Linked DNA regions of Homo sapiens. The protein of the gene in region 2 purifies or fractionates together with the protein of the main gene of each other region. This does not show direct contact. Each region holds a gene or a part of one and is shown on either strand. Other genes may lie near its edges.

Region 1 (8,389 bases), on a different chromosome or scaffold from region 2:
TCCATTTGAATTGATGGTAATGCTGTCCCTCTACAAATTCAGCCCAGCCACCTTAGAGTCTACCTTAATTCCTATCTATCTATCTGTCTATCTGCTTATTTATTTAGAGATAGGGTCTTGCTCTGTCACCCTGGCTGGAGTACAGTGGCACAGTCATAGCTCACTGGAACCTTAAACTCCTGGGCTCAAGCTGTCTTCTTGCCTCAGCCTACCAAGTAGCTGGGACTACAGGTGTATGCCACTGTACCTTCTAATTTTATTTTATTTTACCTTTTTTTATAGAGACGGGATCTTACTGTGTTGTGCCCAGGCTGGTGTTGAACTCCACCTCAGCTTCTCAAAGTGCTGGGATTATAGATATGAGTCATTGCACTCGGCTTCTTAATTCCTTTCTTTGCCTCATGCTTCACATGTAGTCTAAGAGCAGATCTTTTGGTCGTGCCTTCATACGGCCAGAATTCTGACCATTTCTCAACTGTCTTGGTCACGTGCTCTTGGAACGCATGTACTGCCACCATCCTGGTCTAGGCCATAACTATGTTTTGCCTGGATTACTGCAATAGCCTCCTATTTGGTCTTCCTGCTCCCAACCTTATCCCCTGTAGTCCATTCTACTTGCCACCTACTTAAAAGTTTCTGCTGAGAAGTGGTTCAGTTGTTATTATAGATTGTTTTTGTGTTTGGGATGTTTTTGCTTCCTCCAAAATTCGTGTTGAAACGTAACCCCCAGTGCAACAGCATTAAGAGGTAGGACCTTTAAGGAGATAGTATTAGGGATCAGCACCTTTAAAAAAGGGCCTGAGGGAGCAAGTTCAACCCTTTTTGTTCCATTCCTTCTTCCCTGTGAGGAAACAGCATTCTAGGTGTCATCTTGGAAGCAGAGACTGGGCCTTCAGCAGACACTAAACCTGCTGGTGCCTTGATCTTATATTCCCAGGCTCCAGAACTGTGAGGAAATAATTTCTGTTCTTTTTGGAGATGGTGTCTTGCTCTGTCGACCAGGCTGGAGTGCAGTGGCGCGATCTCAGCTCACTGCAGCCTCCGTCCCGTGGGTTCAGGCAATTATCGTGCCCCAGCCTCCCAAGTAGCTGGGATTATAGGTGTGCACCACCACACCTGGCTAATTTTTGTATTTTTAGTAGAGATGGGGTCTCATCATGTTGTTCAGGCTGGTCTTGAACTCCTGACCTCAAGTGATCCTCCTGCCTCAGCCTCCTAAAATGTTGGGATTACAGGCGTGAGCCACCGCACCTGGCCAGTTTCTGTTCTTATAAATTACTACCTCAGGTATTTTATTACAGCAGCACAAATGGACTGAGACAATGGTCTTTTTTTCTTTTTTCTTTTTAAAGATTTTCTGTTTGTGATACATTCTTCCGTATCCTTACGAGGATTTAGGATTCTTCCGATCCTAAATCCTAGGTGCAGATTTAGTTTTCTCCTGTTGGGACATTGCTTCCTGAATGTGAGGTCCATATCTTTAATCAACTCTTGAAAATTCTTACCTGCTAGCTCTTCAAATATTGCCTGTTCCCTATTCTGTATTCTATCCTTTTGGGCTGCCTGTTAAAACTTCCTTGTTTTGGACCTTTTTAATTATTTCCCCATCTGTTAACCTCTCTTTTACCTTTTCCATCTTTTTAACTCTGTGCTGCTCTTTGTAATTACGTATCTCTCTTGACCACTATTAATATCTTCCTTTGCCTCTAATATGCCATTTCTCTTCTCTGTTTCTAGCTGTTGTATTTAGTTAACTTTCAGATCTTCTGATCTTTGTTGATAGCACCTTGTTCCTTTCTCCTGTTTTTTTTTTTTTTCATTCCTTCTTTTATGACTTTAAACATTGGAATGTACTTATTGTATGGTCTCTAGCCAATAATCTTAGTAACTTTGGTTCTTTTTTACTTGACTTGCTCTGCCCAGTCAAGTAAAAGATGGATCTTTATGTGTTTTGTAATTTTTAGTTATAAGCTCAGGTTCAGCTGGACTTTAATCTGTGGGAATCCTGTGTGACCTCTGTAGAGAGTGGCTCCCTCCAGAGTACTTTTGTTTGCTCAGCTAGGTTTCCCAGGGATATTACTAGGCTGATGGCCATTTTATGTTAGTTTCTCAGGACAGATAGGTTCTAGACCACTCAGATGGTATAAATTTGAACTCTGAATTCAAGTGAGAGCAGGTCTAAGATTATAAATTCTCTAGGGATAATCCTCCTTTAACCCCTAATAGAGCCCGGGTCCTCTTATCTCCCTATATCAGGGAGGTGACTTTTTTCACTAGTTATCCTGGAGCTGTAGTTCTTCAATAATCCTTGCTTTAGATTGGGGACTGGAGTCTCATTTTCAACTTACCACCTCTATTGAGCCCAAACTCTTGCCTCTTATACCTGCATGATTGTTAGAACCCAAACTCCTTGGTTCTGGAGATCGGCAAGACCCTAAGAAGGACAGCTCAGTGGTAGTTTAAACTTACTATTATTTTTCATTTAGTTTTCTTTTCCTCTGGTTTTAGCTGGAATGTCACTTACTTTCTATGTGATCAACTATACATTTTAAGTGATTGTTACATTTTATTCAGTATTTTTAGCTGTTTTATAGTATTAGAGGTTTTCCAGGTTATCTGGTTTGCTGTAGTGGTGGAAATGGAAGTCTGTTGTTTGCCTTTTAATTTCGTAGGACTTATTGTTCATGAAAGCTGTTTAAAATACATTTATCAATCCATTCTCCTGTTTTAAAAATGAGAAAATTACATAAAAAAACTAAACCTTCCCCTTTCTCTATTTCCTTGGGGTATTATTATATGTTTGGTATATATCCCCAGTGAAATGGCTTTCAAAGAAACAAACCAGTCTTCATACCAACCTTAACATCTGGGGCATTTCTTTTACAGTGCAAAAGGATATGTTTTGTAGAAGCTGCCTGTTGGCTGGGTCGGGCCAACTCACACCTGAATTCCACTTACAAATATACTTTTGGGAGAAGAGATGTTGAAAATGGGTGTAGAGAGATTGTTTTAGTATATTGTGAAGCTCACCATTTATAGCAAGGCAGAGGGTTAATTTGTATCACTTTTAAGTCACAATAGCTCATAAGAGATAATCTTTAAAAAAAAAAATCTTAGGATTGTTTATTGCTTTGTTACCAAGATCTTCCACATATTATCTCAGAACAACACTGGGGAGAAATACGGTAGACATCATTATGCCCATTTTACCACTAAGTAAAACTGAGACTTAGTTTCCATTGTTAATGACTCTCCTGAGATTATGCAGGTTGCAGATGGTAATGATGTTATTATACCCTGCCATGAAAATTGAGGCTTCTTATATGTCTTTTTGCCATGCTGCCACTGGTGACATTCTTTATTAGGGCGAAATGAGGTATCAACTCAATATCGGCCATAAAGAACCAGTGTTTTCTTGCAGGTTTATTCAAGTCATTCATTCAACAGGTTTGAGCCCCTGCTATGATCCAGGCACCAGGAACAGATAGGAGCACTTTTCTATAACTGGGAGCTAACGTGCAGGTTTTACATTTGCTGACTGACATGCTTTCTACTTTCCTTTTGTAGATTGATGATGGTCTCCAGCTGTCAAAGAAGATTGTGGTTGCCAAGAGAAAGGTAACCATTTCTCATCCCCTTGAGTGGAATTGGATGCCTCTAGGAGCCCACATTGGCTGGCAGTAGACATGGCCGAATTTACAAGCTACAAGGAGACGGCCTCCAGCCGCCACTTGCGGTTTAAGCTACAGAGTCTAAGCCGCCGCCTTGATGAGTTGGAGGAAGCCACAAAAAACCTCCAGAAAGCAGAGGATGAACTCCTGGATCTCCAGGACAAGGTGATTCAGGCAGAAGGTAGCAACTCCAGCATGTTGGCGGAGATTGAAGTGCTGCGCCAGCGGGTGCTGAGAATTGAAGGCAAAGACGAGGAAATTAAGAGAGCAGAGGATCTGTGTCGTCTGATGAAGGAGAAACTTGAAGAGGAAGAAAACCTCACCCGGGAGCTGAAATCTGAGATTGAGCGGCTTCAGAAACGAATGGCTGAATTAGAGAAGCTAGAAGAGGCCTTCAGCAGGAGTAAGAATGACTGTACCCAGCTGTGTCTGAGCCTGAATGAGGAGAGAAATCTGACCAAGAAAATCTCCTCTGAGCTGGAAATGCTCAGAGTCAAAGTGAAAGAACTAGAATCTTCTGAGGACCGCCTGGATAAAACTGAGCAGAGTTTAGCGTCAGAGTTAGAAAAGCTGAAATCATTAACTCTGAGCTTTGTAAGTGAGAGAAAATACTTGAATGAAAAGGAGAAAGAAAATGAGAAATTGATAAAAGAACTCACTCAAAAACTAGAGCAGAACAAAAAAATGAACCGAGATTATACAAGGAATGCTTCTAATCTGGAAAGAAATGACCTACGGATTGAGGATGGCATCTCTTCCACACTGCCGTCCAAAGAATCAAGAAGGAAGGGTGGTCTGGACTACCTAAAGCAGGTAGAGAATGAAACAAGAAACAAATCAGAAAATGAAAAGAACCGCAATCAGGAAGACAACAAAGTCAAAGACCTTAACCAAGAGATTGAGAAACTTAAGACACAAATCAAACACTTTGAATCGTTGGAAGAAGAGCTTAAGAAAATGAAGTCCAAAAATAACGACCTTCAGGATAATTACCTAAGTGAACAAAATAAAAACAAATTATTAGCCAGCCAACTGGAGGAGATAAAGCTACAAATCAAGAAACAGAAAGAGTTAGAAAATGGAGAGGTAGAAGGGGAAGATGCTTTCCTGTCCAGCAAAGGCAGACATGAGAGGACTAAGTTTAGAGGCCACGGAAGTGAAGCTTCTGTGTCCAAGCACACAGCGCGGGAACTGTCTCCTCAGCATAAGCGGGAACGACTCCGGAACAGGGAGTTTGCTCTCAACAATGAAAACTATTCTCTGAGCAACAGGCAGGTTTCTTCTCCCAGTTTCACCAACAGGAGGGCAGCAAAAGCTTCTCACATGGGGGTGAGTACAGACAGTGGGACTCAGGAGACAAAGAAAACTGAAGACCGGTTTGTACCCGGCTCCTCCCAGAGCGAAGGGAAGAAGTCTAGGGAGCAGCCCTCAGTGCTGAGTCGCTACCCCCCGGCTGCTCAGGAGCACAGTAAAGCGTGGAAGGGGACTTCCAAGCCAGGCACCGAGAGCGGACTGAAGGGAAAAGTGGAGAAGACAACACGAACGTTTAGTGACACCACCCATGGATCTGTTCCCAGTGACCCATTGGGTAGAGCTGACAAGGCTTCTGACACCTCCTCTGAGACTGTCTTTGGCAAGAGGGGACACGTGCTTGGCAACGGAAGTCAAGTAACTCAGGCTGCAAACTCTGGCTGTTCTAAGGCCATTGGAGCCCTGGCCTCATCTCGAAGATCCTCCTCAGAAGGGCTCTCTAAAGGCAAAAAGGCTGCCAATGGCCTTGAGGCTGATAACAGTTGCCCGAATTCCAAGGCTCCTGTTCTATCGAAGTATCCTTATAGCTGTAGAAGCCAAGAGAACATCCTTCAGGGATTTTCAACCTCACATAAAGAAGGGGTTAATCAACCTGCAGCAGTTGTGATGGAAGACAGCAGTCCGCATGAAGCCTTGAGGTGTCGAGTCATCAAATCCAGTGGCAGAGAGAAGCCAGACTCAGATGATGACTTGGACATAGCATCTCTTGTTACTGCCAAGTTGGTAAATACAACCATCACTCCAGAGCCAGAGCCCAAACCACAGCCTAACTCTAGAGAAAAGGCTAAAACCCGAGGGGCACCTAGAACCTCCCTATTTGAGAATGATAAAGATGCTGGAATGGAGAATGAATCTGTGAAATCTGTCAGAGCCTCCACCAATACCATGGAGCTCCCAGATACCAATGGTGCTGGGGTAAAAAGCCAAAGGCCCTTTAGCCCCAGAGAGGCGTTGCGGTCTAGAGCCATCATCAAACCTGTTATTGTTGATAAGGATGTGAAAAAAATCATGGGAGGATCTGGAACAGAGACTACGTTGGAGAAACAGAAACCCGTCTCCAAACCAGGGCCAAACAAAGTGACAAGTAGCATTACTATATATCCATCTGACAGCAGCAGCCCCAGAGCTGCTCCGGGTGAGGCCCTGAGGGAGAGGCACACATCCACTAGCAATATCCAGGTGGGGCTGGCAGAGCTCACATCAGTTAGCAACCATGTCAGCTCCCCTTTTGAGCTCTCCATTCACAAACATGACATCACCCTGCAGCTTGCAGAAGCGGAGAGAATGGCAGATGGGCCCCTGAAGGACAGGCCAGAAACAGTGGTCTCTCGGAGCAGCATTATAATCAAGCCATCGGATCCTGTGGAGAGGAATAGCCATGCACCTCCAGCGGAGACAATCAGGTGGAAAAGCCATAGTGCCCCTTCAGAAGTGGGCTTCTCAGATGCCAGACATGTTACTGTGCGGAATGCCTGGAAGAGTAGGCGAGACTTGAAATCTTTAGAAGACCCCCCAACTCGAATAGGTAAAAACGTGGAATCTACCAATAGCAATGCCTACACCCAGAGGTCTTCCACAGACTTCTCAGAACTCGAACAGCCCAGGTCCTGCCTTTTTGAGCAGGGCACTCGAAGGGTAGGACCAAGTTCAGGGGATGCCCCTGAGCCCTCCTCCAGAAGGACCCAAAGTAGCCTCACTGTGTCAGAGGTGCTTACCCGTCGGAATCGGGTAGGAGACACCATCACTGTCGCAGCCTGGAACCACTCAGCAAGCATGGTGAGTTCCAGCCTCTCTCCCCTCTCTCTTTTCTCCCTCCCTTTTCCTTCTTTGCCTTTTCCTTTTTCCCCTCTGCTCTGGCCTGTGTGACCCAGGATCTTGAGAACTGAGTAGAACTGGGTTCCTTAGAGAACTGTTGAAAAATCAGGGGGGTTTGACCTTTCTCCTAAAGAAGGTTTTTGGCAGCATCACTTTCCAAAATCCCTTTTCCAATTTGTTGTCTTCATTTTGCTCTCGTATATGAAGGTGACATAAAAAGGAAATCTGTCTTCTCTTCCCTTGGTTTGCCAGAGCAGCTAAAGGAGCTCCCCGTAGGCCCTCAGAACAGCATGAAAAGCACAAGAAGCAGCTGCAGCTGATGGGGAGCTCTGGGCAACAGGAGGAGGCCCGGTGCCCTTTCTGTAGGGCACAGTGAGGGGGAGCCAGGTCAGCAAGTTCTCGGCCGCCTCAGTTAGCAGATCTTCACAGGCTGCTGGCCTCTCAGGGATGAGGAGAGCCGGGGCTTACACTGGGCCTATTTTAGATAAGCGTATACCCAATTCCAAGTGACACTTTCTTTTGCCCCCCAGACAGCTGTCTGTCTCATATTATCAGTCTGAGGGCAGGGCTGGTTCAGTATAGCTCATTACAGCTTTGATAAATCCAGAACCACCTGCCTTATGTGAGTGTGAGGCTCAGGGTGTCAGAACAGCATCTGGAGAAGCCCCTGGGAGTGTCTTTTTGATGAGAAACCTGTGATGATGAAAAACTTCTTGGACCTGGACACAGTGCTCCCTTCTTTAAAAAAGCAGATGACTCTGTTAACTTGAAAAGCCCTGTGACTCTTTACAGGGTACTTAACACTGGACAAAAGTACTTCACTACCCACTATCTTATTCAGTCCCTTGAATATCTGCCTGGGGGCAGATATTATCCCCATTTTTCAGATGTAGAAGCTAAGGGTCAGAAACACAAAATATCTTACCTAAGGTCACCCAGCAGAATTACTGGAAGAGCGAAGACTTGAATCCAAGATTCCTGTCTCTAAATCCAATGCTCTTTCTACTCTAACCTTTCTTACTCATGCCTATGTTATTCTTTGATCTGCATTTGCTTGGGAGAACCAAGGAGAATATTAAAAAGGTAGAATTCTGGCCAGGCGTGGTGGCTCACACCTGTAATCCCAGCACTTTGGGAGGCCAAGGCAGGCGGATCACAAGGTCAGGAGTTCAAGACCAGCCTGGACAATATAGTGAAACCCCGTCTCTACTAAAAATACAAAATTAGCTGGGTGTGGTGGCACATGCCTGTAATCGCAGCTACTCAGGAGGCTGAGGCAGGAGAATCACTTGAACCCAGGAGGCGGAGGTTGCAGTGAGCCGAGATCGCACCATTGTACTCCAGCCTGGGCAACAAGAGTGAAATGACGTCTCAAAAAAAGAAAAAAAAAAAAAGCCAGGTGTGGTGGTGCGTGCTTGTAATCCCAGCTACTTGGGAGGCTGAGGCAGGAGAATCGCTTGAACCCAGGAGACGGAGGTTGCAGTGAGCTGAGACTGCGCCACTGCACTCCAGCCCGGGAGACAGTGCGAGACTTCGTCTCAAAAAAAAAGGTAGAATTCTAGGCGTAGGGAGAAAGACAGCTATTTGGGCCC
Region 2 (8,389 bases):
GAGAGAAACTACACACACTGGGGCCTATCAATGGGTGGAGGCTGGGAGGAGGGAGAGGATCAGGAAAAAGAATAATGAGTACTAGGCTTAATACTTGGGTTGAAAATAATCTGTACAACAAACCTCAGTGACACAAGCTTACCTATATAACAAACCTGTACATGTACCCCTGAACTTAAAAGTTAAGTAAAAAATAAATTCAAAAAAATTTAAAAAGAAAATATGGAACAAAATGTGGTAGTGAAAAGAACTAAAATTCGTGTAATTTGAATCCCAGAGAGAACAGGAAAGACAGAAATAATATTTGAAGAGACAATAGCTGAAAAATTTCAAAAGTAGCAAAAGATCTGTGGATTAAAGAAACACCATGCATCACAAGCATGATAATGCAAAAACATCTACAAAATCAAAATCAAAGAAAAATTCTCACAACAGAGATTATCCTCAAAGGAATAGCAGTAAGATAACTGACTTTTCAACAGATGTGATAGAAATCGAGAGACATGGAATATCTTCAAAGTGCTGAAAAGAAAAGAAACCAAAACTGTCAACTAAGAATTGTGTGCTCAGCGAAATGTTCTTCAAGAAGGAGGGTTAAATAAGTACATTTTCAGATGAAAACTGAGAAAATTACCGTTGACAGAATTAATCCAAATCCCAAAAAAGAAGGAAAAATCATCCTAGAATAAAGTTTGGAACTATGGAAGGGGTAAATATGGGAGAAAATCTAACGAGTATAAACTTTTAAAAATAATAATAATGGCTTTAAAATGTTTGAGGAGACTTGAAATATGAGCCAGCAATACCGTACATTTAGGAAGAGTGTAAATGGAGTTGAGATAGTCTCAGGTGCTTACATTATCCATTAGAAATAGGATACTAATTTATAGTAGAGGGTGGCAATTCTCAGAGGCATGTTACGATGTCTGGGCTGAGCACTACAGTAAACTAAAAGATTCTATCACTTCCAAGCTCATGGAGCAGGAAAGTGGAATAATAAAATGTAATTAATTCCAGTTAATAAGAAAGAATAGGAACAAAAAGAGAGGTGTTTTGTTTTGTTTTTTTAAAGTCAAGACATATAGGAAATACTAAGGTAGTAGATATAAACCCAGATGCCTTAGTAATTGCATTAAATTTTGCTGTACTACATGCTATAATTTTAAGAGTGATTTACCAGAGATTAACTAAATGAACCCACAATTACATGCTTTTAACCAAGGAGATTCGTAAAATACAAGAGTACAGAATGGGTGAAAATAAAAGGATAGAAAATATGTATACCATGGAAGTGCTAACTGAAAACATGCTGGTAATATCAGACATAGTAGAATTTAATGTGAAACAGATGATTACAGATTAAAAGGCGGTTTCCATAATGATACGAAATTATATTTGCCCAAAAGATATGACAGTTCTGAATGTGTAAGCACTCAATAACAAAGACTCAGAATACAAAAATGTGATAGCACTGAATGGCAGAACAGACAAATGCACCATTATAATAGGAAATATGAGCAGGTTGCTCTCAGTAAATAAAATAGCAACCAGAAAAAAAAACAGTAAGTTAAGATGCAATATTTGAATAATGCAATTAAGAAATCTCTTAAGGGACATATATAGAATACTAATACCGAAGACCTTCAAAATATGCATTCTCTAAGTACACGTGATAGTTTTCTGAAATTGACCAACTCAAAAAAAAAGCAACTCTCAGATTATAAAAGGATTGAAATTATTCAGATTATGTTCTTTGATGACAGTGAAAATTATGCTAGAAATCAATAATAAAAAGGTAACTAGAAAATCCTCAGCTTTTTCTAAGTTAAGCAGTATGCCTCTAAATGTTACTCACAGGTCAAAGAACTCACAATGGAAGTTAGAAAATATTTTCAACTGATTAATAAAGAAAATAACATAACGTCGGCGTTGCCACTAAGGCGATTCTTAGAGGGAAAGCTGTAATCTTAAGAGTATGTATTAGAAAAGAAAGTCTAAAAATAATGATGTCTTAGAATTTGTTGAAGAGGTTAGAAAAAGAACAGCAATCTAAACCCAAAATCATATAACACCTCGGGAACAGAGCACACTCGGTGAGAGACAGCAAGCATTAGAAACGCAAGATTGGACATCTATTCCCCAAGTATGCCAGATACTGAAGCAAACAAAATTAAACTATGTATAGGTAGTCCTTCCTTTGTATGAAGTGTAAGATTAAAAAAATGACCTTGCAAGCTGAAACTGTACAAAATTATCTTAATAATCAATGGGGGACAATTACGATATTTCTGTGACCTTTAAATTTTTTTTTTTTTTTTTTGAGACAGAGTCTTGCTCTGTCGCCCAGGCTGGAGTACAGTGGCTTGATCTTGACTCACTGCAACCTCCGCCTCCTGGGTTCAAGCAATTCTTCTGCCTCAGCCTCCTGAGTAGCTGGGACTACAGGCACACGCCACCATGCCCGGCTAATTTTTGTATTTTTAGTAGAGACGGGGTTTCACCACATTGGCCAGGCTGGTCTCGAACTCCTGACCTCGTGATCCACCCACTTCGGCCTACCAAAATGCTGGGATTACAGGTGTGAGCCACCGAACCTGGCTAAAAATTTTAAGACCCTAAAAACTGTCTTACTGTCAGTTATAATTATACTGCTTGTTATAACTACATTTTTTTATTAAATGAATTTTTTTTATTATACTTTAAGTTTTAGGGTACATGTGCACAATGTGCAGGTTAGTTACATATGTATACCTGTGCCATGCTGGTGTGCTGCACCCATTAACTTGTCATTTAGCATTAGGTATATCTCCTAATGCTATCCCTCCCCCCTCCCCCCACCCCACAACAGTCCCCAGAGTGTGATGTTCCCCTTCCTGTGTCCATGTGTTCTCATTGTTCAGTTCCCATCTGTGAGTGAGAATATGCGGTGTTTGGTTTTTTGTCCTTGCGATAGTTTACTGAGAGTGATGATTTCCAATTTCATCCATGTCCCTACAAAGGACATGAACTCATCATTTTTTATGGCTGCATAGTATTCCATGGTGTATATGTGCCACATTTTCTTAATCCAGTCTATCATTGTTGGACATTTGGGTTGGTTCCAAGTCTTTGCTATTGTGAATAATGCCGCAATAAACATACGTGTGCATGTGTCTTTATAGCAGCATGATTTATAGTCCTTTGGGTATATACCCAGTAATGCAATGGCTGGGTCAAATGGTATTTCTAGTTCTAGATCCCTGAGGAATTGCCACACTGACTTCCACAATAGTTGAACTAGTTTACAGTCCCACCAACAGTGTAAAGGTGTTCCTATTTCTCCACATCCTCTCCAGCACCTGTTGTTTCCTGGCTTTTTAATGATTGCCATTCTAACTGGTGTGAGATGATATCTCATTGTGGTTTTGATTTGCATTTCTCTGATGGCCAGTGATGATGAGCATTTTTTCATGTGTCTTTTGGCTGCGTAACAAAGAAATAAGACACTTTAATTCTCAGTGTTTCTGATATTTTAAAGTACAGTGTACTAAATATTAATTTTACTATTTTTTCATTTCATTTTACAATCAATTTAAAGGATTAGGATAATTGATAAGTTATGATGCAGATAACCATATGATGAAAATGATGGAATATTATGTCATCTTTAAAATATTTGCAGAAAACTTTTTAGAATGTGAGAGAATGCATATGTCTGAATACTACGGTTAAAAAGACAGATTATAGTATTAGCAATACAGTATGTCATTGGTCTATTTTTAATGGAAAGTAAAAATTCTGCTAGAAAATATATTACAGAATTAATAATGGTTTTTTTCATAGGACTTGGGGTATCTTTTCTAAAACTTGTTATATTTCTATACTGATCATTTTCTCTATTAGGTAAACATTTCATATAGGAAAAATAAAAGTTTTTAAAAACACTGTTAGATATTTAAAAATAAAAACTGTCTTAACCAATACTTGTAAGTTTTTTAATTAGAGAATAATTTTCAAGCTCTGTCCTTTCTTCAGAGTAATTAATTTTTTTGTTTCTAAAGTGTTTACCTTCTCAGTTTTATTGTATTTGATGAATTTTGTTTTCAATAAATATGTTTTGACATCAAGATTTAAGTTTTCTTGTTTCAAAGGAGATTTGTAATATTAGTAAATCATTCACCTCTAAATGTTTTAGGTAGATGGATGTAGTTTATTTTGTTATTTTCACTTTGTAATGTATTTACTATAAATATTTTCTGCTTATGATTATATGAAATAAGAGTGTTTTCTGAAAATGTACTTTTTTTCTCTTAAGTATGTATTATTTTAAATTAAAACAATCATTCTTTTAAGTTGTACCTTCCTTGCTTTTTTTTGTAGTTAAGGCATGAAATATCTGTAATTTACCTTAATGTTAAGATTAAAGTCAATTTTAAGCCTTTCAGTATTATTGTTGATCTTATATAAGGATGTGCTGAAAAATAAAGCTTCTGATGTCTTGGTTTTATAGCCAGCGACCATTTTCTTCTCTTTGCTTGTTAACTGGAATTAGTAAGAAGTCCAGTGAGTTTGGTGAAACACGCTGAAGAAAATAGCAAATAATTCTACAGGATTTAATATATAATTTTCATTTAATTGACTAGATATACATAGATATTTTAGAATTTTTCTGAATGGCTTATTTTATCATTTAATAAGAGATAATATCTGAATTTTACTCTTTTGAAAATTTTTGAAAAATTGAAACCTCTCTAGGACAAACTGAATCATGCTTCAGTTAATTGTGATCGATTTAATGCATTGAAATTGTTATATAATCTTTTGATTCTTATAGCACAGTATTTAATGGTAATTAAACACTTCTAATTTTTTATTTGAAGTCTACTTAAAAATGATTTTGTTTAAAGAGTTATTGTTGACCCAAATGTTTAATTGACCTCGAAACAGTAATTACTGTTACGAAAATGACTTGAGGCTATCATGTTAACTATTTGTTTCAAAGGTTGCACAGTGAATTAAAAGATGCTGTTGAAAAAAAATTGGAGGCCTTTCCCCTGGGCACAGAGGTAGGAACTGACATATATGCAGATGATGAAACAGTCAGAAACCTTCAAGAACAATTGCAGCTAGCCAATCAAGTGAGTGACATGTATTTTTAAAAATTATATTCTGAATTAACATACCTTTTTAAAAATTCATGTTAATCATTATTTATGGATAACAAAATAATAAAATTGTAACATTATGATTTTTTACAGTTTATAAGAATCGTTACAGGTAGCAACACTTGTAATAAATACCCTCACTGTTAGAAACGTACTTGCCAAATACCCTCACTGGTTGTTACAAATGTGTTTAATTAAAATCATAAAGATTTTGACGTGAGTTTTTTTCTTATGAGAATATTTTTTCTTTCTTTTTTTTCTTTTTCTTTTTTTTTTTTTTAATTATACTTTAAGTTCTAGGATACATGTGCAGAACGTGCAGGTTTGTTATATAGGTATCACATGCCATGGTGGTTTGCTGCACCCATCAACCCATCATCTATGTTAGGTATTTCTCCTAATGCTATCCCTCCCCTAGCCCTCAACCCCACAACAGGCCCTGGTGTGTGATGTTCCCCTCCCTGTGTCCATGTGTTCTCATTGTTTAACTCCCACTTATGAGTGAGAACATGCAGTGTTTGGTTTTCTGTTCCTGTGTTAGTTTGCTGAGAATGATAGTTTCCAGCTTCATCCATGTCCCTGAAAAGGACATGATCTCATCCTTTTTTATGGCTGCATAGTATTCCATGGTGTATATGTGCCACATTTTCTTTATCCAGTTTATCATTGATGGACATTTGGGTTGGTTCCAAGTCTTTGCTATTGTGAATAGTACTGCAATAAACATACATGTGCATGTGTCTTTATAGGAGAATGATTTATAATCCTTTGGGTATATACCCAGTAATGGGATTGCTGGATCAAATGGTATTTCTAGTTCTAGATCCCTGAAGAATTGCCACTCTGTCTTCCACAATGGTTGAGCTAATTTACACTCCCACCAACAGTGTAAAAGTGTTCCTATTTCTCCACGTCCTCTCCAGCACCTGTTGTTTCCTGACTTTTTAATGATCACCATTCTAACTGGCATGAGATGGTATTCTATTGTCATTTTGATTTGCATTCCTCTAATGACCAGTAATAATGAGCTTTTTTTCATATGTTTGTTGCCTGCATAAATATCTTCTTTTGAGAAGTGTCTGTTCATTTCCTTTGCCCACTTCTTGATGGGTTTGTTTTTTTCTTGTAAATTTGTTTAAGTTCTTTGTAGAGAGAATATTTTAATGTCAATGAAAATTTTTAAAGGAAAAAATCCATTATTTCTCTAAATTTGTATTTTTCAGTGTTCTTTTTTCTGATATTGTTTTCAGAATATTAAGAGTACTATATTTTTCTAACATTATATTTCTTCTAGAATTATACTTTTTCTTTTTCTCTCATAGTAATTAGAATCTTTGAGCAGCTATGTTAAATATATCCTGTTTTTCAACTAATTTTTTGTGAATTTTATTCATAAGGGAATTGTATTTAAATTTACAGTGTTATATCCCAAATGTTTCATATCTTGTATGGGTTTAAATCCCCATTCTTCTACTTTCCAGGTGTGTGATCATAGAAAAAAACTCTTGTGCCTCAGTTTCCTCATTTATAAATGGGGGCTACAAATTCTAAATTACAATTTTGATTTGATAATTATCTGAAAATTCGGTTTTATTTCCTGAAAATTTGGTTTTAAAATTCTATAATTATGAAAGTGATATTTTAGGTAAGTCAGAAAGGCTATATTTAGCTTGATAAGGAACATGTATTTAACACTAATTTTTTTTAATGTATGAATGGAAAGAATTTTTAAATATGATGAAAGAAAGAAATAATGAGGAAAGCATGCTGTTTGTTCTAGACTAGGAAAGATTTATAATTGATTTCATGGGATTAAATAGAAATTAATTTAGGCTTATATGTCTAGCACATATGTACGTTAATAAATTTGCCTATTTATCATTATTATCATTATTGAACAGCAAGACTCACAAATAAGAATTAAAATTATGTACAAAAGGTGCTGTGTAGTGTATATATGTTGCTTTAGGAGCCAATAGCAATAGCACAATGCTAAGTACCTAGCTTAATATTTTCAGTTTAAAATATTTTTTCTGTTACAGTATGATTTGTAGAAATCTTTCTAGAAGTCAGTTTGGAAGAAGAGCCTTAGAAATGTTTGCATTATTTGATCCAGTAATTAGATGATGACACCACATAGATTTTATGAATTTGTTCTAAAGAACTGAATATAAAAATTTTTGAATAAATATATTCATTATAATATTTATCGTAATGAAACATTTGACATAGTTTAAAAATCTTAAATATGGAATCAGTTAAATTGTAGTTTGTCCAAATAGTAAGTTGTACCATTTTTAAAAATTATATAGTGTACATCATAATCACTTGAGGGCTTTTTGAAACATGGATTTCTGCTGTGCCTCCCCACCCCCCCACCACCCCAGTTTCTGATTCAAGAAGTCTGGGAAAGAGCTCAATAATTTACATCTCTAACAGTTCTGAGGTGTTGCTGATGATGCTGATCCTTTAAGAACCACTGCTCTAGGAGAATCTGGGTTGTGTAACTACTAGTCTAGGTGATTTTTGTCGTCAGACAGGTCTGGAGAAACAGTGGGACATTTTGAGGTATGAGGCATTTTTACGACCATTTTACTGAAAAGAAAACTTGAGTCTTAAGGAAATGAAGTGAATTATCCAGGACTATTTAGCCAGGAATTAGAGATCACACCCATATCTTCTGGCTCCATATTCTGTGTTTATCTACAAATTTTAAAACCGCTTTTAAAATTTTTAATTAGCCTACAGTTTTTGTTTTTTTTTTTAAGTTTTAGACAAAACTAATCTATGGTGTTAGGAACACGAGGAAATGGTTATTTAGGAGAAGAGTATAGTAACTGGAAGAGATCACAAGAGGGTCGTCCAGCTTCTAGGTGATGGTAATGTTCTTTCTCTTGAACTGGGTGCTGGTTACATAAGCGCACTTGCTTTATAAAAATGTACAATTTGTTCATTTTCTGAATGCATGGTATACCTCAGTGTACTCCAAGGTGCCTTATGTTTTTTGTGGGTTACATATCTATCAGTATTTATTGTATTACAAATTAAAACTGAGACTTAAAAAAAAAGTAGGAGCATAAGCATGTAGTCCATTAGCCCTTAGAGCAAGGATGGCATCACATCATATAAACTTTAGAAAACTTCACTGTACATTTGTGAGAGGATGAGAGTAAAAAGGCGAAAAATGTTAACATATTATTCTGAAGATAAATTTGACTTCTAGGACCTTTCAAAGTTTAAAAGTT
Region 3 (7,215 bases), on a different chromosome or scaffold from region 2:
GATAAGGGAATGTTATTAAATGAGTACAGAGATTCAGTTTTGCAAGATGAAGAGAGTTCAGGAGATGGATGGTGATGATGGTTGTACAACAATGTGAATGTACTAAACACTACCGTATACTTAAAAATGGTTACAATATTAAATTTTATGTTATCTGTATTTTACAATAAGAAAAATTAAAAAAAGAAAAAAATGAAGACAGACAATAACAAGTGTTGCTGACGGTGTGGAGAAATTGGAACCCTCATACATTGCAGGTACAAATGTAAAATGGTACAGCTGCTGTGGAAAAGTTTGGCAGTTCCTCGGAAGGTTAAAGAGAGTTTCCACCTATTGCTCCTGCTAGATGTTCTAATCTCATCTACTGTTGCACCCCAGTGTACTTTACACTCTAACTAACAAATGACTTACAGTTTCTGAATGCAGCCTGCTACACCATCCCATTTTATTCTTTACCCAGAATGCTGTCATTCTCTTTTATTTCCGCCTTCTCTGTTTCTGGCAAAGTCTTACTCGAATCACAAAACTCTTCGCAAGTGTTTCCAACTATTTGGAGTCTTCTCTGACCGACTTCAGCAGACTATTTTTTCTTTTCACACAAACAGTTCAGCCTTATTTGTATATATACAGCCGTGCATCGCTTAAGGACAGGGATATGTTACAAGAAATGCATTGTAGGTGATTTTGTCATTGTGCAAACGTCATAGAGTGTACTTACACAAGCCTAAATGGTATAGCGTACTACACACTTAGGCTATAAACCTGTACAGCATATTACTATACCAAATACTGTAGGCAATTGTAACACAATGACAAGTATTTGTGTATCTAAGCATATCTAAACATAGAAAAAGTACAGTAAAAATGCTGTATAAAAAGTGAAAAATGGTACCTGCATAGGGCAGTTACCATGAATGGAGCTTTCAGGACTGGAGTTGCTCTGGTCACCTAGTGAGTGAATAGGGAGTGAATATGAAGGCCTAGGATGTTATTATACACCACTGTAAATTTCATAAACACTGTACACTTAGACTACACTAAATTTATTTTTAAAAATTTTTTCAATAATAAATTAACCTTAGCTTACTATAACTTTATCAACTTTTTACCTTTTTAACTATTTTGTAATACTACTTAGCTTAAAAGACAAGTCATAAATTTTACAGCTATACAAAAATATTTTCTTTCTTTATATCTTTATTCTATGAACTTTTTATTTTGACTTCTTAAACTTCTTTGCCAAAAACTAAAACACATACAAGGCCTAGTCATGTCAGGATCATCAATATGACTGTTCTCCATATCCTGTCTGACTAAAAGGTCTTCAGGGGCAATAACAGGCATGAATCTGCTATTTTCTATTGTAACAATGCCTTCTTCTGGAATATCTCCTGAAGGACCTCCCTGAGGCTGTTTAACGTTAACTTTTTTTTCAAAAAGTAAGTAGGAGTACCCTCTAAAATAACAACAGAGGCCAGGCACAGTGGCTTACACCTGTAATCCCAACACTTTAGGAGGCTGAGGCAGGTGCATCACCTGAGGTCAGGAGTTCGAGACCAGCCTGGCCAACATGGAGAAACCCCATCACTACTAAAAATACAAAAATTAGCTGGGCATGGTGGTGCATGCCTGTAATCCCAGCTACTCAGGAGGCTGAGGCAGGAGGATGGCTTGAACCCTGGAGGTAGAGATTGCAGTGAGCCAAGATTGCACCACTGCACCCTAGCCTGGGTGACAGAGCAAGACTCTGTTGAAAAAAATATAAAATAAAATGAAATAACAACAGAGGCTGGACGCTGTGGCTCACGCCTGTAATCCCAGCACTTTGGGAGGCTGAGGCAGATGGATCACTTGAGGTCAGGAGTTCAAGACCAGCCTGGCCAACATGGTGAAACCCGCTCTCTACCAAAAGTAAAAAAATTAGCCAGGGGTGGTGGCGCATGCCTGTAGTCTCAGCTACTCAGGAGACTGAGACAGGAGAATCTCTTGAACCCAGAAGGCAGAGGTTTCAGTGAGCCGAGATCACACTACTACTCTCCAGACTGGGCAACAGAATGAGACTTCTGGTCAAATAAAATAAAATAACAGAAAGTACAGTATAGTAAATACTAGGCGATAGAGGTTTCTCAGCTCCATTATAATCTAATGGGACCACCGTCCTATGCAGTTCATCACTGATTGAAACATCATTATGTGGCACATGGCTGTCTCACATTCTGTAACAATTTGTTTGCATTTCTGTCTCCCTCACAAAAATTTTAGCTGCTTCAGGGAAGGAACTACTTGTTATTCATCTCTGTATCTCCAGTACCTAACACATTTTCTAGCAAATAGTAGATGCATGATGATGAAAATAAATCATCATAATAACAGCAGATAATATTTATCTGATACTATGTGCCAGATATTATCGAACACACTTTACATTTATTAATTAATTTAATCATCACAAAATCCAATCAATCAGTCAGACACAAAGTAGTTAAATAGCTTCCCCAAAGTTGGCCAACAAGTAAGAAACAAGGATGGGATTTTAGCACAGTCTGTACCCAGAGCCTATATTCTTAGTTACTATGTAATATAGCATCACATGTATCAATAAATGGTTACACACATAAATTAATGAATTTTATAGTTTCAGTTTCTTCTGGTCCTAAGCTGCTTTTACCCTTTTCCTTTTTTTTTTGAGACAGGGTTTCACTCTGTTGCCCAGATTGGAGTGCCCAGGCATGGTCACAGCTTACTGCAGCCTCTGCCCCCAGGCTCAAGTGATACACCTCAGCCTCCAAAGTAGCTGGCACAGTAGGCCACTACTGGCTAATTTCTCTATTTTTTTGCAAAGGATGGTGTTTTGCCCTGTTGCCCAGGCTGGTCTTGAACTGCTGGGCTCAAGCAAAACGCCCTCTTCGGCCTCCCAAAGTGCTGGGATTACAGGCATGAATCGACATCCCTGGCCTACCCTTTTCTAAAGTAGCATTTATTTTAGGAAGTTATGTACATTGTTGTATTTGTTTGAGTTGTCATAGGTACTAATACAATTTTGATGTGGTATTAAAATAATTCCCACTGGTAATGTTTTCCTACTTAACAAAGTATAGACAGTAAGAAATCAAATATATAGCAAAGAGAAATTTACTGGGTAAAATGTGCCTAGTATTCATACCCACTAATTCTAGAGTTGTTGCTTCTAATGAAAAGGGAGGAAGATGATGGTCCCATGTTAGTATTTTAGGCAGATGGAGCATCAGTCAAATCCTGGAACTGCTGTACCCAGCTTTAAAGTTTCACTGTATTGACTACATAATGCTTCCTTGTAGATATAATCTAAAATTGTTCAGCAGAGCAAATGGGTTTATATTTGACAACTAGGGAGCAATGCCAGCATTATTTTCTCTTTTGTAGTATGCCAAATATATTTAAAAATATAAGCCATAATTTTAATACCTAAAGTAACTGTTAGACTGTGCATTTTCTTATTTTAGTAATAGTAATTTCTGTTTGTGGTGAATATGAGTTTTATTTTTAAGTGTCCTAAATGTTTAATAAGAGTCAAGCCTGAGGGAGAAATCAGTCTGGTAGTTTGTAATTATTAAGATACAGCAGTTATAGGCCAGGCACGGGCTCGCATCTATAATCCCAGCACTTTGGGAGGCCAGAGCGGGTGGATCACAGGGTCAGGAGATCAAGACCATCCTGGCCAACATGGTGAAATCCCGTCTCTACTGAAAATACAAAAATTAGCTGGGCGTGGTGGCACACACCTCTACTCGGGAGGCTGAGGCAAGAGGATGGCTTGAACCTGGGAGACAGAGGTTGCAGTGAGCCGAGATCACACCATTGCACTTCAGCCTGGTGACAAGAGCGAGACTCCATCTCAAAAAAAAAAAAAAAAAAAAAAAAAGATGTAGCAGTTATATTGTTACTCCTTTTCCTCTTGGTTTCCCCCCCAAAAATACTTTTCTTGCTTAATTTACTTTCTTGGTAAGAGTGAATAGAGGCTAAGTGATAATGCCACTACACTGATTAAATGACTTACTGGCACAAAACTATTGAGGCTTAACTAGTTGACTGTTTTAATAACATCATTAAAATTTCATTTTGGTTTATTAGAGCACATCCATGCAAAGTTGGAATCTAACCATTCTCATGTCTCCTTATAATGCCTAGGGGATCTTTGAAACAGTATTTTTGCCAACTCATACTTTCTATTTTCATTCTGTAAAGATAAAACATGTAAGTGAAAACGTTTAACAAACATTAAGAACCTTCTTCGACCAGGCACTCTCCTTCGCTACAAAATTTCCACATTACCTATTTTTTTATTAGCCATTTTTGAACTCTCTTCCATTTCTAAGTTTCTCCCTGCAGCTTTCCTGAACATGAAGCATTTCCTTTTCTTTTCATTTCTAGCTTTCCTTTCTCTGTACCTCATGTACACTTGGAAGCTTCAGGGACTTAGCACTGGTCATGCCAGCCTCTACAGATCACATCTCTGTCTATAATTGGGTCTCCATGGTAATGAGAAGCAGAAAGTGCTGAAGTAGCGCACTATGTAAGGACTGGCAAGAGAAAATACTGTCGCGGCCTCTACAGGCATAGCATTGAATCCCCATGGTGCCCAAGAAGCCCGAGAGAAGCACGCTGTGGTGTAGAGCAGGAGACTGAGGACACGGACTTGGCAGATTTATTAGCAGCAATATTCTAAGATGAACCAAATTTAAGAGTTTGTAAGTGCTCTTTTCAATTGGAAAAGACCTTTGAAATTTTTTTTTCTTTTCTTTTAGGAGGCCAGATGCTCCAGTGCCTGATGGCGAAAGTGAGAAAACTGTAGAAGAAAGTTCAGATAGCGAATCTTCTTTTAGTGATTAAGCTTAATTTTGATAAGAATTACATATGCATGCATAGGGGTACATTTACATTCTGTAAGAGATTGAGCCTGAACTCTCTTAGTCATAAAAACATCAAATGGCCACATGTCCACTACCAAGCTTCTTCTATGTTAAAAAAATAATAATAAAGCAGTTTTAACCTGCCAGTATGTCTTGTTGCTAAAATAAAGGGCCTCAAAATGAAAAATAGGATAACCTAAATAAAGTACAATTAGTGCTACAAATACTAAGATAGAATATTTTAGAGATGCAATGAGCAATTACAGTCAGGCACGGTGGCTCACGCCTGTAATCCCAGCACTTTGGGAGGCCGAGGCGAGTGGATAACCTGAGGTCAGGAGTTCAAGACCAGCCTGGCCAACATGGTGAAACCTCCATCTCTACTAAAAATACAAAAAGTAGCTGGGCGTGGTGACAAAAATTAGCTGGGCGTAGTGGCAGGTGCCTGTAATCCCAGCTACTCGGGAAGCTGAGGCAGGAGAATCACTTGAACCCAGAAGGTAAAGGTTTCAGTGAGCTGAGATTGCGTCATTGCACTCCAGCCATGGCGACAAGAGTGAAACTCTGTCTTAAAAATAAAAAGAGATGCAATGAGCAATTTTAAATGAAGTCAGTGTGAGTTTAGTGATCAATAGTAGACCCAATGCAAAAAAAAAAAAAAAACAGTGAATTTGGCTAAGTGAATTATTCAATTTTTGTGAATATTTTAGCATGAAAAGTATATGGATTCATATCATGAGTTGTTAAAGACATTTCTGGTAGAAAGTAATACTGGGTTGAAATTTCTTTGACAACTTAAAACTTACATATCACATATGTTATGGGTATGGAACTTTTTGGTAGTATTTTTTAGCATATGCAGCCTTTCACCACTTGGCCATTAGTTCATGTGTTTTTTAAGTCAGATATTCTTATGCAGTCATGCATTGATTAACAACAGGGATATGTTCTGAGAAATGCGTCATTAGGCGGTTTTATTGTACAAACATTGTGGATTTCATAACAAGTGTACTTACACAAACCTATTGCTTCTAGGCTACAAACCTGCACAGCATGTCACTGTACTGAATACTGTAGGCAGTTGTAACACAGTGGTATTTGTGTATCTAAATGTAGAAAAGGTGCAGTCAAATATGGTTTTATAATCTTAGGGGATGTTGACCAAAACATTATGCAGCACTTGACTATATTTATTAGCAGATGGAAATTGAATTGAAGGTCGTTTCAGTGTGGTTCATAATGAGTAACCATCGTTGCCATCAACTCCTGTATTACCTAAACAAAAAAAAATGTGTGCAGGATTAAAATGTTCTCACCTCACCTTGCAAATAAATAATTATTATTCATAGTTATTTACACACAGTCTAGAAAATTCCTAAAGTACTTATGTGAAAAATATATAAATGCATTTAACTAATTGTGCCCATTTTAGTTTAGTTCACCTGCAAGTAGAGCCTGAGAAAAGGACTTGGGTGTATACAGGTCATTCACAAGGTGATCCCAGAAAACAGAAGTAAAAAAACAGGGAGAGGAAAAGGGAGAAAACCACTTAAAAGTTTATTATCGGCCAGGTGAGGTAGCTCATACCTGTAATCCCAGCACTTCGGGATGCTGAGGTAGGTGGATCACTTGAGGTCAGGAGTTTGAGACCAGCCTGGCCAACATGGTGAAACCCTGTGTCTACTAAAAATACAAAATTTAGCCGGGCGTGGTGGCATGCACCTGTACTCCCAGCTACTGGGAGGCTGAGGCAGGAGACTCACTTGAACCCAGGAGGTGGAGATTGCAGTGAGCCCAGATGGAACCACTGCACTCCAGCCTGGGTGATAGAGTGAGACTCTCTCAAAAATAATAAAAAATTTAAGAAGTATGTTATCAAGATTGCCAGTTGGGGTTTGAGTGCTCCAAGACCCTCTGAGAAGCTTTCAGAATGCCTCCCAAAATTTTCCACCTAATAAAACTGGGAACATTAATTAAGCAATTTCCATCCCCCGTTAGTTGAGTTGCCTCCAGGGGCATTAATTATCCCTGCACTTCTGGGCTGTGCTTCTGTGTGGAAAAGCAGCACCCCAGTGTTGAAGAAAGACTTGGAACAGGAAGCAGAAAGATACATGGCTTCGGCTTGCAGTGGGATTTCACAAGCAGAAAGGACAAGTCCAAGCTTACTCACCTAGAACTATCCATGTAGCTGTGACTGATACCGGAAGTGGACGAGGGAATGTGCAAAAGAGATATTTGCTGCAGTCTACCCAAATGCAGTCAATTCAGAACTGATTGAGTCCCATGTTAAGTCTACTTTGTCTTTTGTCTGTGGGATAACACAAGG
Region 4 (8,389 bases), on a different chromosome or scaffold from region 2:
ATTGAAATCTCATTGATCTTACAACAATTCTTTGGTCCAGCATTTACACTGGCCTCCATTACTTTTGCCACCCATCCCACCTGGGAGCTACTCTGACCTTTCCCTGTTCCAGTGCCTTCTTCGCAGAAAGCAATCAGGCCCAGCACCATCACCAGAAGGCAGATGGTATTTCTGAGCCATCTAATCACCCCTGGGTCAGATGGCACCAATGGACAGTGATCAGTGATTTTATAAACTAAGGCTTAAGGCTAGGTCACCACTCAATTACATTTTGTGACTTTACAACTGAATGGTATTTAATTACAAATTATAATTTCCTAAAGAGTAATTCCAAATTAACTGTTAATCACTTGATTCTGTTTTTTATATATACCATATACACTGTCCTTCCATTTTTGATTCTATGAATCATAAATAAAACACAAAAGTTCATCCTAAGGGTACACTTTACTAGGCAAACACTTACTTGATGAAAGTTATATGTCAGGACCATCTCATAAAGTTGACGGTTATTTGGCAAAACATCTCTTGATCCTAAAGGTTTTGTTTTTGCACTCACTGGGCTGTAATGAGGAAACTACATAACTGGTTTGATTCAAGAGTTCATTGAATGAGACAAATAAAACCATATGCAACAAAATCTGTAACATATTGCAAAAAGTGCAGATGAACCTTCCTGAGAGCTATCCTTTTCAGTATACTCTACAATATTTTAATCACTAACTTACATAATTATTTGATTGAATCATATCAATACATACAGTTTAGATTTTGCAATAAATATGACAAAGGCAATCTTTTCATGGCAAAAACATTTTCAAATGTGAACAAACAGCTCTCAATACAACCAAATCCTAACACTAGGGTGACAACTAAAAGTGTTGCAAGACAGGTTCTGATTTGTACCCCTTGTGCAAACTGTTGACAGTACTGTGTTGTGTGCAGCACAGACCTCCCCAGACCCCTGCTGCTCACCAGATGGCAGGGGCCACACTCAGCCCTCCTCCTGGCCGAGGGAATGTTATTTCATATTTTTAGTAGTCCTCTGAAGGAAGTTGCTAATGTACAGATTTTATAAAGGAGAAAACTGACACTGAAGAGTAAGTTTTAAATATAGTTTAAAATGTCAGTGAAACATAATCTACTCTAAATTTAGCTCCAATTTTTTAGATTTAGGAAGAAAACATCAGGATGATATAAGTTGGATATATCTTCAAAAGCTGGATGTTTTAATTTTTATTGATAATTCTAGGAAGCAGTATATCTTTAGACATCACCGTGTCACTGACTATTGTCCCTAATTGGTTATTTTAATACACTTAAGACTAGGCTTCATGCCGATGAGTTAAGGTCAGATTAAACAAAAGAAACCAGGTATCTTTATAACACAGTGAGTATGTGAACACAGGTCAAGGTGCCCTGCTTTTGTAAGGGGAGCTGCTGAGGCACAAACAGCAGGCTACAGTACTTAAGTTTCTACCATTTAATAAACAGTTTCTAATGGTATTGCAGTTTCTAAAAATGACTGCATTAGGATTCACAAAATAATATCAGAGAGAATGTTAACTTGCTATTTTACAGCAAGAAATAAAAAGGTTAATGTCCACTGATCCTAACTAGTCATGACTGGGATCGGCTATCCACCATCCTTGACTTTGCTGGTCAGGTGGGACAGTGAAGCTAGAAGCTGATACTGGGGCTGCCTTGCAGAGATCTGCTGGCAAGGATAAAATTCTCACCTCTAGCATGCAGGTGGATTAAAAAAAAAAAAGGCCCTTTTTTAAGAGTGTAAGAGATCCCCCCAATCTATATTCAATATCTGTAGTTCCTAAAACATTGAATGATACCGCAGTGTTTGGACCCAGTTCTTCAAAGTTATGCAGGGAGCCAGATCTTCGTATTTCAAGGAGGACTGAACATCAAAGCGGTTGATTCCTTCCGATGCATGCTACAAAGGATTTCTCAAATTACTTTCTCAAACTTTACTAAAAATAAGCAATATTTTGTACCTAAAATAAATGTGTCCAATATAAAGTTTATAAGTACCCACACACAAAGCCTACTGCTATCTTCAGAACCACAGGTAATTTCCCCTCATTAAAGTTTAAATCTAACCAATGAAGTTACTCTCCAGTAACACAAGTAACTGACATTAAAAATCATGAAAATGTTGTGGAACTTACAATGTTTAACTGAGGAGCAGTACACACTATCCCATGGAAAGAAATGGTATAATCAATGTTGACATCACTGAGACTTGCCCACCAACGAGCAATGCAAAATTCAATTGCTTTTCCACCCTGCAAATAAAAGTAAATAAAATATATCTCTTTTCTTATTTTTCTCAAATTACAGAATATAAATACTAGCTGTTTCAGAGCAATTCTGTTTTCAAACTTTTCCTGTTTGTAGCAAGAAAACTCAAAAATTTTAACAGCTATGCTAAGTAAGAGTTAGACAAATCATTTGCAGAGATATGGTGTATTTAAATATACATAGTTATTTACTCATAACCCTATGCTTCTTGTCATAAAAGATCCTAGGCAGCTTCTGAAAGCACATATAATAAAGCAAATGTGATTTTATTATTTCGAAGTGAAATAAAAAATTAGGACCAAAAGAAAAATAATCAAGTATAACGACACAATAAAGATACTTCAACTTTGTAAGGCATACTCAATAGGCACAATTGAGTTTGGGCTCACAGCTACCTGGCAACCAAAACAAAATGACATTATGGTCATTTACATCTTTCTCCCTATTAAAAAATAAAGATAAGGAAAAGGAAAAAAAAACACCTGCTCTTAGCACTGAGTTTTAAAGTAAGTTTTCTAGTAATCAGTGATTTAAAAGTTTAAAAAGATGAAGCAACACTGATCCATGGAAGAACACAAATGAAAGTAACCAGAAACCAAGAGATACTGGGAAAATCCCAGAACCAACTGAAAACACAAAGGAGCGCATTGAAGGAAGAACATCAGTACTTTCACCTTCTATGGAAGAAAGACTAGTCATCATTTCCAACACCACAGATAAGAATGCAGTCTGCCATCATCTGAGATAACTTAGACATGAAGCAGTAGCAGTTTTCCTATAATGCAAATTAGCCTCATAGCTTAACAACACAGCATTAGTAAAATAAGTTAAGTGACAAGCAAACAGGTCTTAAAGAAATTAATCTATAGTACAACAAAGAATAATCTAAATCAGGGTCCTAACTACAAGGCACGAGAATCTACCAGACTAGTATGTTTCTTTGACTATGCTATTCAAGAATTACAGCCATAATTACCTCCAACTTGATTTCAAGTACCCTGATTAGATTTTCTATTTTTCTACTTCATTTTTTTGGCATTAAAAAAATATATAATCCCAACATGCTAAATACAAACTATAAAATCAAATGCAAATACTTAGTCTTAGCCCATACCAAAAAGGCAAATAAATTGTGTTAGGATTATAAACTATAATTAAACTTACTAGGACAGGAAAAGCTTCAGTCAGTGTTCCTTTCTCTGGAAGAGAACAAAACTTATAGAATTCATGGCTTCGATATGCTCTTTGCTTCACAAGCTGGACTGCATGTAGAACAAACTTTGCTGACACCTCAGAAGAACACGAACACACTGTCACTTCTAAAATAAGAAAGAAAGAAGCAAAGCTTTAAACTTATAAGACCTAAAATTGACATAAAGTGGCTTTAATAATGCCCACTTAGGGATAATTCCCATGTAGGGACATAATAGGGATCAAAAATAAAATGTACACTCAAATCTGCATATTTCCATAAAAACAAAGAATCAACAAAATATTAATAAAGGTAGAAGACTAGAAGATTTTCTATGGGAACGAAAGAAACTGGTATTAAAATGAACCACCACCATGAGGCTGCAAACACCTGGAAACAGCAAGCTGTCCATAGATGCATACACAATTACATTAATCGGGTACCTTTTAAAATCCCTCCTTGTTTTAGCTGAAAACCAGTCAATTCCAGATAAAGTAAGGAAGGTTATATTTTTGGAAACCTCTATTTGTTATCATGCCTCAATTCCTCATTGATAACTTTTCCTAATCTCTCTTCTTGGTCTACTTGTGTACTGTGTGCGTCTACAAAGCCTGGCACGACTACTTATGCTTAACTTTACTCTGAGCCAGCGCTGGAGGTAAGCCAAGATCACCGCAATGCCAGATTGGCAGCTTTTCTAAAGAACACCCAAGCTAATTCAAGGGAACTGAAGCAAGGCGCAATGCCGTGGCTCATAAAACCAGGTGTGCAGAGAGCTCTCAGAACCTAGTCAGTTGCTAAGAATACAAAATCTAGTGTTATGACAATATTTCTAATTATTTGAAATAAAACTAAGACTGTTAAATTCTCTTAACTACTTGCATTCTAGATCATTTGATAATTTTTATTTAAAAAAACAAATTATTTTCAATACCAACCTAAACCAATCATAAATCAGTGCCATTTATCACTAAACAAGTACCCAATTCAGTATTAATTAACCATAGATTTGTATTCTTTAATTTACCAGTGCACATTTTACCAGAGCCTGGAGCTCTACAAGTCCCAGGGGCCCTATGAGAATGGGACCCCAGGAATGCTGAACACAGCAACTCTGACTCCACCCTCTAGAAGTACTGTCAAGTGTGAGCGTAATCCCAACGAAGACAAGCTATGTACCAAGTACTATAAAATCCCTAATCCTTACAACAGACTAACGACTATATTTACAGTTGAAACAGAAGTCCAGAAAATTTAGAAACCTGCCCCCAGGTAACCATTAGCGTATGGCAGAGTGTGGATCCAAACCCAGACTTCTCAATTTCCAAAGCCCGTGGCCTTGCCGCTACTCTGTGCTGCCTCCCTCTAATCCAGTTCTCTTAACTGCAATATCTTGGACTAGATGCTCTCAAGGCCTCTGGAAGCAGGGTCCTTGTCTAAGTAGCTCACCACCTTAGCCCACTGAAAAGGGCCTGGCACAGATGGTACAGAAAAATATGCTTAATGAATGAGTGTAGTACAACCCGATTATCCTCAGAAGCCTCTCACTGCTGCAATAGCTCCATTATAAACCAGTGTGCAAATTAACAGGCTATATTGGGTGCTGTTCAATTCACTGCTTTAGCTCTCAGCTTTTGCTATTATTTTGCCTTTACCTAATTACAAAAAACAAGAAAAGTCTGGTATTTCCTGTGATACCAGGTGACAAACAGATGGACAGCATACAGATAGATGACCAGAAAATGGTATGGGGAACCAAATACAACCAGTTATTCCCAAACCAAGTCATACATGTGTGATTTCAATATTTCATTTTCAATAAAGTCTCAGATGTAAATATATCTGTACTTTCATACAAGTACAAAAAACACACTCCTAAGTAAAATACAAGCCATTTTTACTAATGACACCTATCTACCTTATAGGGTTCTGACGGGACTAGACAAGATAATCTCTGTAAAGTGCTTAGCAGAGGGGCCAAATCCAAGAAGTATCAACAATGCTGGCTACTAATTTAAATTGGGTGACACTTTCTTGACTGCCCGTATTTGCTTCCTTCTATCAATGGGAGTGAGCTCTGACAACTGACATACCCTTCTATACTGACTGCTAAATTGTAAATTTAGGACACACAACTTGTGAAGGAAAATATGGTACACCCACAGCTCTTGTAAAAAAGAATGACATGAGCACTCTCACAGGACTATAACATGTTAATTCAAGAGCTTTGTGTTAGGCAATCATTTACTCTCAAAATTTCAGAGACACTGAAGTGAAAATCTTCTATAAACAGAGCTTCAAAGATTAAAGCTCTATTTCTAAAATTCTGAGAGTTTAACAGTTTGAGGTTTAAGCAACAGCTGCATTGTTTAAACTGATTTGTAGTATTTTAAAAATTAGGCCGGGCACAGTTGCTCATGCCTGTAATCCCAGCACTTTGGGAGGACGAGGCGAGTGTATCACGAGGTCAAGAGATCGAGACCATCCTAGCCAACATGGTGAAACCTCGTGTCTACTAAAAATACAAAAAATAGCCTGGCGTGGTAGCACACGCCTGCTAGTCCAAGCTACTCGGGAGGCTGAGGAAGGAGAATCGTTTGAACTGGGGAGGTGGAGGTTGCAGTGAGCCGAGATCATGCCACTGCACTCCAGCCTGGCGACAGAGTGAGACTCTGTCTCAAAAAAAAAAAAAAAAAAAAAAAAAAAATTATTACCAGGTAAGGCATTATTCTAAACTAAGCTCAAACCTTAAATATTAAAAACATCTTAAGATGGCTTAATTTCCTGTATGGGCCAATGCAAAATTGTACTAGATCTTAAAAACGTTTTGAACTTTACAGAAAGTCTAAGGTACCCAAATACATATATTAGTACCAGGGAAATACATGCTACAGATAAACGAACCTCATACAGCTATAGTCATTAGAACGTAAACAGAGATAAGCGGTCACACAGATTTTAATTTTACCTACCAGCCCATGTTGCACCCTCAGGAACCTCAATAAAATGCCTTCGAATTTGACCAGGTTTAAAGTGTACATCTGTAAAGGCTAGATCATAATGTGATGATTCATTTACTCTGAAAATTAATAAAAGTAATTAAATGTATATATTTATTATAAGACCACAGATACTCTAGATTTCATTGGATAAACGCAAAATAACAATTCATTGGAAATAAACACAGGGACTTAGAAGCTGGTTACAAAACAGTAGGTACGATATTGTTCAATTTTTGCAGTAGGTTAGCAGAGATAACCTCTGAATAGCAGAGTATAGATGATTCTACTTTTTGCCTATTTTATGATTTGTAAGATACATTCACACACACTATTAAAAAAGCATTCTCTTTTTTGTTAAAGGCATTCTACAACATTCACAGAATTTTCCAATTACCAGATTCCAAACTACAGTGAGTCCTAGATATTAAAATCAATGATAAAGTTTTATGTCACTGGTATTATAGCTATGAGACTTGTGTTAAATTAAGCTCCTCCTGTAGCTTCAAAACACTCCCATGATGTAAAACAGTAAAGAAAGGCAAACTACTTTCAAAGCACTTTTGTAAGAAATCAATGAAATAAAGTTCAAATGCATAACTACCCACCACGGAAACAAATTTTATGCTAGAGACAAATTCTTGTCAGTAGGACAAACGGTTAAATGAGTGCCTACTACATGAGGCCCTGTTATTAGGAGCTAGAAACGTAACAAAGAAGAAAATATGATTCTTTAACCTAGACAATCTAGCATGGAGAGAATCATCATCAGAGACATTTAACATAAGATGCTCCAGATAGACAAGAAGAGTTACGGAGCCTGGGAAGCTTCCTGAAGGAGATGGCGTGGCAGCTGACTCCTGAAGGTCTTACACATTACCTGGTCTAAATTACTACTGGACTTCGAGGGAATATACGGCTGAGAATTTAACTGTTGCACAATTTTTCCACATGTATACCACTTTTTAAATTTATTCTCCTCAATTTCATCCTGTGTTTCTCATGGGCTGAGATCTATTGCATACTTAATATTTACCAGAGTAACAGAACTGTTAGTTTAGAATTTCCACTTGGTTTCCAGTACTCTCACAATCCCAATCTCACCTTCATCCACTAGATAATTTATTTTATACATCCTGTATAACAGTAGTCTCTGTGCCTTCGGTGGGCTCACAGTGAAAGAGTGTAAGTTAAATAAAAAATTACAATATATTGGCTAAAGTCTGTCCAGGGGCACGTAAAATGTGCCACGAAGCAGAAAGAAGGGACTCCCTTCACCCAGGGATGACCAGGAATGCACCTGGTCATTAACTGAAGAGACAGGAAATTGAAACCAAGTTATCAGCTGTGCACATGCACAAATCCTGAGAATCCTCAAGTGCCAAAATCAGTGAGTTGGCCAAAATGTGTAATTTGGTGTACGGAATGACAGGAAACACTGGCTAGGGCTATAATTGTGAGGGAGCATTGTTTGCTATTTTAAGGAGCTTGAACTTGACCTTTGGAGGTGCCACTGATATACTTTAAGCAGGAAGTAATATAATCTGCTGATTTTTCCTTGGTTCCAGAGGAATAAGATGGGAAGTTAAGAGTTTCTTAACTTCTGCTTCTACAGTAGATAACTAGAAAAGTGGAAGCATTAAGAGAAGAGAGTAAATCCCAAAAACGACAGAGACAAAAAGGGCAGGAATGGAGGGGAGTGAAGTAATATTGTCAAATACTACAGTGGGATCGGGTCAGACGAAGCCTGAGTTATCCTCTGAACTGGGCAATGCAGAGCTCAGAGTGACTGTGGTGGAAATAGTTTTGATGCAGAGGTAGGGCAGATGCCAGGTGCCATCAGTTACTCTCAGAGCACACAAGAGTCAGTATGGCTGACTAC

The links.
Region 1: the proteins of SCLT1 (region 2) and LUZP1 purify together in Homo sapiens (affinity purification with mass spectrometry; one large-scale study listed by BioGRID and IntAct). This does not show direct contact.
Region 3: the proteins of SCLT1 (region 2) and WASHC3 purify together in Homo sapiens (affinity purification with mass spectrometry; one large-scale study listed by BioGRID and IntAct). This does not show direct contact.
Region 4: the proteins of SCLT1 (region 2) and TPP2 purify together in Homo sapiens (affinity purification with mass spectrometry; one large-scale study listed by BioGRID and IntAct). This does not show direct contact.

What each region holds. Positions count from the first base shown.
Region 1 is NC_000001.11:23,089,559-23,097,947, reverse strand, and holds part of LUZP1 (leucine zipper protein 1), read left to right. Parts: intron 1-3,567; 5' UTR 3,568-3,686; coding exon 3,687-6,758; intron 6,759-8,389.
Region 2 is NC_000004.12:129,000,469-129,008,857, reverse strand, and holds part of SCLT1 (sodium channel and clathrin linker 1), read left to right. Parts: intron 1-4,981; coding exon 4,982-5,117; intron 5,118-8,389. UniProt on the Homo sapiens protein: Adapter protein that links SCN10A to clathrin. Regulates SCN10A channel activity, possibly by promoting channel internalization.
Region 3 is NC_000012.12:102,010,762-102,017,976, reverse strand, and holds the end of WASHC3 (WASH complex subunit 3), read left to right. Parts: intron 1-4,784; coding exon 4,785-4,869; 3' UTR 4,870-5,137; downstream 5,138-7,215. UniProt on the Homo sapiens protein: Acts as a component of the WASH core complex that functions as a nucleation-promoting factor (NPF) at the surface of endosomes, where it recruits and activates the Arp2/3 complex to induce actin polymerization, playing a key role in the fission of tubules that serve as transport intermediates during endosome sorting.
Region 4 is NC_000013.11:102,638,468-102,646,856, reverse strand, and holds part of TPP2 (tripeptidyl-peptidase 2), read right to left. Parts: intron 6,588-8,389; coding exon 6,481-6,587; intron 3,636-6,480; coding exon 3,481-3,635; intron 2,301-3,480; coding exon 2,184-2,300; intron 1,949-2,183; coding exon 1,848-1,948; intron 564-1,847; coding exon 467-563; intron 1-466. UniProt on the Homo sapiens protein: Cytosolic tripeptidyl-peptidase that releases N-terminal tripeptides from polypeptides and is a component of the proteolytic cascade acting downstream of the 26S proteasome in the ubiquitin-proteasome pathway.